Linked DNA regions of Homo sapiens: region 1 is linked to region 2. The links come from fine-mapping of genetic effects on gene expression. A gene starts in region 2. The other region holds a variant in brackets. All regions are shown on one strand. Distances are from middle to middle.

Region 1 (5,374 bases), 220 kb before region 2:
GAAAAGGCCCACTGAGGGGCAATGGGTCCCACTGAGGCTTCACACATAGAAGTAGTCCTTTAGGAGGGATAATTGGTACCAGCAGAGAAGGGTACTGCTATAAAGGTAAAACTTGTTTCTGGAAGGTTTACTTACCAGTTGTTTATAGAGTTCATAAGCTCATCTCTAGAGCCCTGAATACAAATGTCTTCAGGTATTTGAAGAAAGGATTTCATTAGTCTTTGAGCTTTGAATTAGGCAAATTTTAAAAACTGCCTTTCTTTGATAAATTTAAATCTAAATCCAAGATCAAGCCTCTGGATACAGCTGCTGTGCAAAAGGAATTTTATCTAAATTGTGTGAATGTCTTGAAGATGATGTTCACTTGGTAGAAAAAAAAACTATCAATATTCCTATGTCAAATGGTTTTGAAATAACTTTAATTCAATGAATAAATTATTGGAATAATAGCTATAATAAATCTAGTATTGAGCCAAAAAATTAATTTTTCTATTATCTTTAATGTTTAAAATCACAAATTCAATTTTCAAAAAATAAAGAAAATGGATAAAAGCAATACCATCCATGTGCTATAAACTATAATATGCAATATTATCATCAATCCATTTCATATTGATATATATACTTTTTAAATTGTCTGGCAATGGTCATCCAGCTTTCACAGAGTAATCTATCTTAAGATATAGTTTAGGGAGGCAAAATCAATGACTCAAGAGGACAGAATCTGTGGCCCAGGTCCTTTTGACTTATTCTTTCCTTTCTACCAGGAGGAGGTGTCATGAGAACCACTAGCTGTTGTGAAAGTTTGGCATTAGCCTATGGATGAGCTGGGAGACCCTAATGACAGAGGCTTAGTCAAAATTTCTGGACTTCAGGGCTGGCTCCTGATCCTCTGAGGCCTTGTGGGCCATCTTTAATCTTTGTTGTTAATCCTTCCCAGGCCCAGAGCTCCTGGACACAAGTGGGAAGACACCAGGGAGTGAGGTGACAGAGGTGATCACGCAGCTAGTTGAATTTTGCAGCCCATATGCCCAGGGATCCCAGCAGCAAGTGACAAGTCTTTTGAGTGGAAGAAGGAAGTGGGTTCCTGCCATAGTCCTTGGGAGAAGCTTGATCTGTTCTCTTGGGAGACTGAGCAAAGAGAGCTTTATATCAGGGACACTGGAAGCAGGTCTGTGGCACTGCTCAGAGCTTGCTCCTTCCTTCCTTCCTTCCTTCCTTCCTTCCTTCCTTCCTTCCTTCCTTCCTTCCTTCCTTCCCTTCCTTCCCTTCCTTCCCTTCCTTCCCTTCCTCCCTCCCTCTTTTTCTTTCTTTCTCTATCTCTTTCTCTCTCTCTTGCTTGCTTGCTCACTCGCTTTTTCTTCCTCCAAAAGAACAGAGACTATTTTTGCCTCACATTCATCCTGGGCTTAGGGATGAAGACCAGGGCTCTCTCCTGCAGCTCCTAGATTGCCAATGTTCTCTTTTCCCATTTGCCTTGGAAGTTGTCCTGTAAGTCTTCCTTGGGGTACTTTCTTGACTTGTGGGACTTTTTTTCCAATTATTTTCTTTTCCTCAGTTTTCTATTTCACTTCTTCCATGAAGGTCAGCCTATCTTGGAATGCACTTGATAGAAAGTAGAATAGTGGGGCTGGGCGTGGTGGCTCATGCCTGTAATCCCAACACTTGGGAAGGCCAAGGCGGGTGGATCACCTGAGGTCAGGAGTTCGAAGCCAGCCTGGCCAACATGGCAAAACCCTGTCTCTACTAAAAATACACAAAAATTAGCTGGGTGTGGTGGTGGGCGCCTGTAATCCCAGCTATTCAGGAGGCTGAGGCAGGAGAATTGCTTGAACCTGGGAGGCGGAGGTTGCAGTGAGCCGAGATTGTGCCACTGCACTCCAGCCTGAAGTGGAGCGAAAATCCATCTCAAAAAAAAAAAAAAAAAAAAAAGAAAGAAAGAAAGAACGAACAAAGAATAGTGTATGCTATCCCAGAAAGGCCCCATTCATAACATGCCTCTCCTCTTGAAAGCTGATCTCAGAGACATACCAGCATTTCCTGAACATTGCCAAAGGCTTGACTCTGTCTTAGATGATCCCAAAGCAACACCTCTATAGCTGCGGAAGTGTCCACGGTGATTGCCAAAGGATACTGAGGGGTGTCCTTCCTCTTTGGTCCCGAGAGAGGACTGAAGAAGGAAGAGTCAGGAATTCCCATTAGAGAGAAAACCTGAGTCTCAGAGGAGTTTCACTGGCCACTCAGCCTCTGGTTGTGGTCTGTGCCAGCAACCAACTCAGGACTCCTGTGTGAGAGAGATACTCTTTGTAAGGATGTGGAAGGGCACAGTAAGCAACAGGTGAGCCTTCTTCTCTGGGTTGAGTTTGAATGGCAATACCAGAGGCTGGGCACTCCTAAGCTAGACACCCTCAATAGTCCCAGGTGGCTATCAGTGAAGTGGGTGGCCAGGGGCAGCTAAGTGGCCTGCAGAATTATCAGGAGCCACATACAGGCAGTAGACATTGTTTTTGGCTATATTCACATCCATATTAGTGTCCTTTTCTCAGTTCATTAAATTACTTTGCATAAAATTGTTTTCATTGAAAGTTCATAAGCACTGTATCAGTCAGAATCGGTTGCTTTTCTTTAGCTTATACTGTTTAACTGTCCAGTTTAGCTCTTCCCTTCTTCTCTACCCCTTATTACTCATTGCATTCTCCATGTGTGTTGAGCATTCGATGTGCTTTTAAAATGACAGCTACCTAGGAAGCCCTTTAACTCATTAACCTCCCCACTCCCACTCCCATCCCCACTTTCTCCAAAGATGGCCCTGATGAGCCACACCTTCTCGTATTCCATTCTTGTGTAATTTCTTTCCCGTTGAATCTGGGCTGATTCAAGATTATGACTTGCTCTTGACCCTAGTATGTGGCAGAAATGACTCTAGGTTCCTTTAGAACTTACTTAACAGAACCTTGTAGCATCTAGCTGGACCACTTGCAATGCTAGCTCTGGAGGAAGCCAGTCACTTTATCAGAACACTATCTTGAGATGTCCCTGTGGTGAGGAAGCC[C/T]GAACTAACCATATGGAGAGACTATGTGGAGAGAGATGTCCAGCCATTCTGCAGCTGTTCCAGTTATCTCAATTCCAGAGCCAGATGTGAGTGAAGAAGCCATTATGGACATCCATCCGAGGCAGGCATTCAGATGATGCCAGCCCCAGATGCCATCTGAGAGCAACCATGAGACTGCAGGGGAGAGCATCAACTAAGCTCAGTCAACTCAGATAATCATGAGAGACAATATATTTCTATTTAAGCCACTATGTTTTGGTGCTTTGTCATGCAGCAGTAAGTCATTGGAATGTCCCCCCTCCCACCCCCCGCATTGCAGGACAGGGTGGCCATGAAAATAGCAAGCCATTTTCCATACCTATCCTTTGTCAGTCTCCCTGACTCAAGTGTAAAATAAATAATTATTTTCTTCTCATCATATGAAATGTAGTTCTACTGATGGCCATGTGAACTAAACAATACCTTTTTTTTTTCTTTTTTAGAGAGACAGGGCCTTGCTCTGTCACCCAGGCTGAAATGCAGTGTTGCAATCTTGGCTCGCTGTAGCCTCAAGCTCTTGGACTCAGGCGATTCTCCTATCTCAGCTTCCTAAGTAGCTGGGACTACAGGTACATTGCTAATTTTTTAAAAATTAGCCGGGGGGGCGGGGGGTCTCTTTTGAAATTAGATGGTGGTCTCTCCATGTTGCCAGACTGGTCTTGAACTTCTGGTATCAAGTGATCCTCCCGCCTTGGCCTCCCAAAGTGCTGAGATTACAGGTGTGAGTCACTGCACCCAGCCCTAAATCATACCATTTAGAGTCATGATTGTTGGAGAATTTTGAAAACATCTGCATTGTAGAAACCTTTCCCCTCCCCTCCCTGACCCTTGCTCCTGTCATGTACCAGTGTACTTCCTGGACATCAAAGTGCCTGCTGCATATGTCCAACTCACTGGCTGGGAGGGTGCTTCAGCAGCAACACACATCAAGGGCAGGTCTCCTTGAAGCCAACAGAAGTAAGAGGAAGGGGCTGAGAATCAGTGCCAGTTGGGTGGGGGGACACCTGGCCTCTCCCTCTCTCGGCACCAGCTTTTCCCAAGGTCTGATCAGAATGTTTCCTTTCTACTGCCATGTCCATTTTTTCATGGTATTTTAATTTCCTTCTTTATCCTGGAAAAGACATTGGAGAATCCCCTTCCCCCAAGTTAAATAAGACAAGGTTGGAGTTTTTCAAAAGGAGCATTTACTAGGAAACTAAAGGGCAACCAAACAGAATGCAAGAGAACAGAGGCAGAGTTGCAAATGGGCTGAGGGAGTTCAAATTTATAACCAGCCTCTGCTCACAGCTGTACTGGCTAGGCAAAGCTTTCCAGACACAAAGCCACCTGCCTGCCATGTGGATAGTACTCTTTGCCTGCTTGCCCCTACAAAGCCACCTTCTATTTCATACCAATAAGCCAGTTGCATCCTCATTAGTATCCCAAGGCTGCTGGCTCTCTGGGCAGGAAGCTTCTGAGGTGGGGAACAGTAGGCACAGCTGCCTCAGGATCTCCAACCCAGGCTTCCATTGCCAAGGACATGTCAGAATTTATTGGGATTGCTGCCTGATATCTATTGGAGCCAGTCTGCTTTCTCTGGGACCATTCTTCTGGGCTCATCTGCCTAGCTTTACAGACAATATTTCTGCTAACTATCCTGGTGGCGCTAGCCCTTCATGTTTTGCTTCTAAACACTGGTATGGTGGAGGATGTCTGAATGAGGAGGGATGAGCAGAGGGGAACCTTGAGCAGAGGAAGCCAAGTTTTCCTTATGTCATCAGACATAGGCAGAACCTTGGATTCTCTTTGAATCCCAGTGGTTGGAAGCCAATCAGAGAAGTGAAGCTTGAATGTAATGACACTGCTTCCTACAAACAAAGGCCTATAGCCTTCTTAGATCTGCCATCAAAGTAGAGCTTCTTGTATAGTACTAGGCAGCTGGGGCAATGAGAACTTTCTGAAGACGTATAACGATCCTTCCTCCGCCCAGTTAGTTCCATGCTGAAATGTTAATTCAAACAGAGATAATGAGCTTTCCAGGAAGGTAAACTACAATCCAACTCTGGATTCTGCTGTAAAGAGATTGTGTGAAAAGAAAAATACTATCTTGGAGTAGTGGTGCAAATGTGTGGATGGGGTGCCTTGCACCTATAATGGGACAGAGAGGACCATTAGGTAACAGCCCCCAGTCCTCCCAGGATATGCTGAGGCCTTTGGTTTCATTTACGTGGAGGCAGAAGCAATGAGGATGAGGCGCATAGCTGGCCATTGGTTGGCAGACTTGGTCAGGAAGGAAGCTGAGTA
Region 2 (5,374 bases):
GTACAGATGACAGACTGGGTGAGGCACTTCAGTTCCAACTGTGACTTAGGCTTATTTTTTTAAACCACAATTGCATCAAGTCCTCTGTGAACACCAAGTCAGGGAAATCTGGGTGCGGTACTCCCCCAACAGGGCACTATAACTACCTGGACAAAAAAGAACCTTTCTGATGGCTCAGGCCCGCTGGTCTGTGCCCTAGTCTTTCCACACCTCTGAAAAAATGAGTAAATTTCCTAGATGCAGGGTCACTTTGCTGTCCACAGGAAATTATATCTTTTTTCTCCTTTTATAACCAAAGTCCTTAGTTCAGCTTGAGAAAACCTAGCTATCACAGGGTGGCCGTGAATGGACAATAACAGAGAAAGCTGGGACATGGCATTCAGGTGGATTCCTTTCCAGAAAAAGAAGTCATCCATTTACCGAGATGACTCTCTCTAGGAACCCATGTCTCAGGGCTGCTGTGCATGGTTGTTCTGGTTCACACTATCAACAGCAGGGACATTATTCACACGGCGTTGTGTGGTGCAGCTTTTCTACTACTCAGCTTTTAGGGTTCCGAGATTAAAGACACTCTTGCTTCAGAGGGATGAAGACAAATGCATCTGATGTAAGAATTAATGTCGGCAAGGCAAGGAAGGAGGGAAATGAAGGGAGATTTGGAAATGAAGGGAGAAGTGTCCTGAAGGAGAGGGTGCACTTTGGATGTAATCTTTGGCCTCATTTCCTCTCACCTTGCACTCGAAAACCCCCACCCCTGTCCTCATGAGCTGGCTACTTTCCAACAAAAACCAAAGAGCCACAGGGGCATGGGGCTACTTCAAAACCCTTGTGTCCTAGTTTAAGAAAGCAGAGCACTGCTATCAGGAACTCAGAGCAGCAAGGTCGACTCCTATCTCTAGCTATTCCTCCGCCAAGGAATCAGATTTCCTCTTGTAAGAAGCCTACTTAGTGACTCTTTCTCAGGGGTTGCCTGGTGTAGGGGCTGAAGAGAATCTGAGAACACAGGATCCAGCTCCCGGATTAAAAGGAGTAGAAGCAGAAAACTGGCCAAAAAGATGTGATTCAGAGATAGGCCTCATCCATCTTCTCTTGTAAAGCCAAAGACAACTGCTTATGTGGGATAACAAGGAGAACTCGTGGTCTGGTCACAGGCAAGGAAGTGAGATGTTTCAATACTAATACTTGCTTTGGGCAAAGCATGCAAAATAATTGTCTTGCTTCTGCTGCTTAAGGACGAACTTCCCCGACTTAAGACATCTTCCTGGGACTCCAGCTTGTGAGATAAGGGACTGTGGTTTATTCAGCACATCACATCCAGCAATGAGATGCACATAGGCTGGACATTAAACCTCCCTGGAAACCACTGGGATCAGTATTTCTCTACCCAATTATCCACTTTGAAGTAATATATCAATGATCATTCAATAAACTTAGTTAATATAACCACCGGCAATGGAAAACAATATTTTTTTCTTTTTCAATAGGAAAAAAAAGCCTCTGGTAGGGAAAATCTGATATAAACTTTAAAATTTTAGCAGATGACTTCACCCCACACGACCATCTTGAATATATCAAGGATATGCTATTTAAGTCTGGCTCAGTGTGACACTCTTTATAAATCAAATAATTCTTTAATTTATCTTTTGGATAAATGGATTTTTATATAATAAATTGTTTTCAATTCGTACATCATAATTTGCAAGGCAATAGCTCATTTCCAATATTTATACATAGCAATATCAAGAGAAAGGCCATTTTCTCATCCCATTTTTAACAATCCAACCACAATATGCTGTTTTGGTAAGTACTTAGGTTGGGAGAATATTCGAGAAAACTATTTCTCCAGGTGAGAAACATCTCAAGCAAACATTGGAAGGAATGCATTTTCCAGTAGCCAGTAACGGATGAGACGACCTGGGAGACCCAGGGACCTCAGGAAAAGCAAATGGCTCCACTAAAACTCCCTCCTCCAACCTTAATTGGTCAAATGCCAAAATAAATGAACTTTCCAAAGTTAAGAGCTTTGCAACTTTCACTAGGAGTAACTACAGGTGCACAAGCCAGGACCGACGAGTCTACGAACCCCATCGTGGCCGGCGGTAGTCGCTGGTCGAGCCTAGCGCCCAGGCCCAGGCCACCTCCATGCCGTGCGACCCGCCGGGAACGGGTTCAGGCCCGTCTGCCCAAGGCCAGAAGCACCCTGTCCCCGGCCCAACGCCGGATCGCGTCCCGCCCTTCTCACCCCATACCAAGGAAAGGAACTAGACGCTTGGGAGAAAGGATGAGCAGCACCCGGTGGGATTCGGCCCCAACCCGGGGCCGTCCCCAACTCCCAACTTCCCAGAGTTTCCTTCGGCCTCGTCCCCCTTCCCACGGCTCCGAGGCCGCCGCGGCCTCCCCTCGCTCTGAGTGCAGATAGCCCGGGAAGTGGAGAGCGTAGCTCGGAGCTAGGGAGCCGCCCCCAGGAGCCTTGGCGATGGGAGCGCAGGTGGCGGGCGTGGTCCCTCCAACCCTGCCCTAGCCGACCCGGAGTCGGCCTCCGTGCAGTAGCCACCGCCCGGGTCCCCGCCTGGTTACAGCATCAGGCCACAGTGCGCTGGTTCTTGATCACTCTCCTGGCTCGGTGGCCGCCCCCCGCCCTCTCCCAGTCCGCGTCGCTGTTCTGCCTCAGGCCCCGGTGCGGCCCCAAGTCCCAGCCCAGGGCCCTTAGGTCCCTCCAGGCGGCGGTGGCGGCACTCACCTGGGTCGCGGAGCCGGGGTCTGGCACGGTCCCGCAGGTGGTAAATGAAATCCTGGCAGCTGTCGTGCTCCAGGGCCCCACGGGCACAGAGCTCGGCCAGCAGCTGCAGCGCCTGGTGACAGAGCGCGTCCCTGGCCCCGGGCATCGCCCCCCCGCATCCTCGGACCGCGCCGGGCAGGCGGGCGCAGGAGACAGCCCTCCGCCTGCCAGCTCAGAGCCGCCGCCTCCGGGCCGTCCGCGCTCACCGCCAGGGACCTGCCGAGAAACGGTGCGAGCCTGAGCCCGAGCCCCAGACCCAGCCGGCCCGGCCTCCCACCGGTTGCATGCAGCTCTTCGCCAGCCGGTCGGTCAGGCTTTCTCTCTCTCCCGCCCGGTCCCTCCGTCCCTCCCCAGACACCGAGGAGAGGCGGTGCCGCACAGCCCAGAGCGCCTCTCTGCTTGCGCTCCGCCCGCTACTCGCGGCCGCCGGGGGGCGGGGCCAGGTCAGGAGTGCGCGCCGCAGGGTAGGATAGCGGCGGCCCCAGACCGGGGACCTGGGGTACTCCCCGGCTCCTGGCCGAGCGCGAGACTTGGCTTGGGACCTCGCGCCCAGAGCGGCCGCGCCCTGGCTTGGGGAGTGTGAGTGAGTGCGCGCTCCGGGCGCTTTCGCTACTCCACCCCTCATCCCTGATGCAAACCAAGCACCCGCTCCCACCGCCGAGTGTGTCCAAAGCACGTTCTTGGATGCCTAGTGCGAAGGTTACAATCTGGGCACACCCGCCAGATGCGCAGAACCGAGTCCCTGCTTCGAACTTGGAAAGAGCCGCCTGGGTTTGAACCATGGGCCTATGGGTGTCAGATGCCCAAATGCAGGGTTTGGGTCCAAGATTCGCCAACAAAGGAAGGATTTCCCAAGCACAGGCCCTTTTCGACCACTGTGGTGATTTGGATGGAGAAGGTGGAGGCTCTAGGTCAGAACTAAGATCAAATAAATAAACGATTCCTGGGAAAGACCCTGAGGCTTACCTGGGCTTCGTGGGTCCCTTAGTTTTCTAAGCAACCGTTTGGAAATCCAAACATTGCCAAAGTGTCTTCAGCACCCAAGGAGGAGTATCACAGAATCTTGGAGAGTTGGAAGGAACCTCAGGGCACCTCTCATCCACCCATCTTTTCAGCCTTTCAAGCAGTAAAGCCTAGAAATAACCACGAAGTACTCTGGGTGTGTGTGTGTGTGTGTGTGTGTGTGTGTGTGTCACTGTGCCACAAGCCTTTTAGGTACATAATCTCATTTAATTCTGTACATAGCCCAACAAGGTCTGTGTAATTGTTATCCTCATTTTACCAATGAGAAACTGGGGCCTGGGGACTCACAAAGGTGTTACTTGCTCAAATTCATACATGATGAAGGTAGCTTTGATTTTCTCTCTTTCTTTTTTCTTTTTTCCTTCTTTTTCTTTTGTCTTTTTTGTAATACTGGTGTTCAGGCCCCCACTCTAGAGCAATTAGAGTAGGATCTCTAGAACTGGTAACTATCATTCTTAGCCATGAGGTTGTGCCGTCTCTACGGACATATCACAACAATTCATATTTGCACAGAAAGATAATTTGGGATCCTATAGAATGCTCACGCAACAGGCAACCTTTGAAATCCTGCTGTGAATGGTACTAGGGTTTCAGGGAACTTACATGGGAATAGCAGAGAAAATGCAAAGTTGTAAAGGTAAAGATGCCTCCAGAGAGTTGCAAAGAGACAAACAGAGGGAGGAGAAACCAGCTTTAAGGGAGCCTGTAGGGGAGGTTGAGCAGATGCTGTTTCTTCAAAGGGGGGAACCCCTAGAGAAGAAGAAAAAGGCCATGAACAGAGAAGGTGACACCAGAGATAGTGTGATGCTGGGGGGGGGTGGCGGGGGGGACATATAGTAATGGTGAGAAGGTATGTGTGTTGAAGCACATGGAAATATTACCCTAATGCCATCATGTCAGAGAGGAACTGAAAGCAACAAGTTCAGTTAAAAAATGACTTTGATAAACCAGGCAAGAGATGATGAAGGCCTAAACCAGGCCAAAGGCATTAGCTGATTGCTAGAAACATCCAAATTTGAAAAACATTTCAAGTATTAAGTGACAAGATTGCAACCAATGGAATAAGAAAGAAGTGAAAGGCACAAACGTTTCAAAACGTTACCTGGGTCATATGTGCTCACACCCTAATAACACTTAGAAATGCAAGCCTAGAGTTTAGGAGAGAGTGAAGACTGGCAATCATCATTGGAAAGGTAGAAACTGAGTTGCCACATGGGATGGTTCCTTCAAGAAAGAAGAGTTGAAGAAATGAAAGAGGAGATTGGAAGGTAGCAATGAGAACAGGAGGAAAGATTGTACAGAGGGGAGTCATAGGGATCACGGGAGGAGGAGTGTTTGGTAGAGGAGCGAGCAACATCAACTGTAAACTTTCAAATATAGTTTAAAGAGAAAAAACTAAAAAGTGTCCTTTGGATAAAGTAGACAGTAAGACATTCAAGATTTAGACAGACTAGTTACTATGCAACCAACCTTGTGCAAGTTAACATTTTTGTGCCTAGGGTTTCTCATCTTATCTCAAAGATAACGTGTATCTTTGGGCTGTTACAAAGATTACATAAAGCAATATATTTA

Which allele goes with the higher level. Alleles are on the strand shown, and positions count from the first base shown. SD is a standard deviation of normalised expression in the study named.
In carriers of allele T in region 1, the expression in prefrontal cortex of the gene that starts at base 3,168 in region 2 tends to be higher than with C alone (moderate effect, 0.42 SD a copy in GTEx).

What was found. PIP is the estimated chance that this variant, and not a neighbour inherited with it, causes the effect. A credible set is the group of variants that fine-mapping cannot tell apart.
Region 1: its variant is the best candidate, but not a certain one, in a credible set for the expression of SYT9 in prefrontal cortex (GTEx, PIP 0.77).

Annotation. Positions count from the first base shown.
Region 1 is chr11:7,467,927-7,473,300 of GRCh38, reverse strand. SYT9 (synaptotagmin 9) reads right to left here. Exons shown (of 7, transcript NM_175733.4): 7 at 4,258-5,374. Among named protein-coding and RNA genes, the nearest start is that of SYT9-AS1, 4.8 kb to the right of the region's middle. RefSeq lists an enhancer at 5,320-5,374. The variant C/T (reference allele first, on the strand shown) is at 3,053.
Region 2 is chr11:7,249,698-7,255,071 of GRCh38, reverse strand. It overlaps SYT9 (synaptotagmin 9), which reads right to left and starts at 3,168. Exons shown (of 7, transcript NM_175733.4): 1 at 2,741-3,168. The coding sequence starts at 2,885. RefSeq lists a silencer at 3,136-3,275.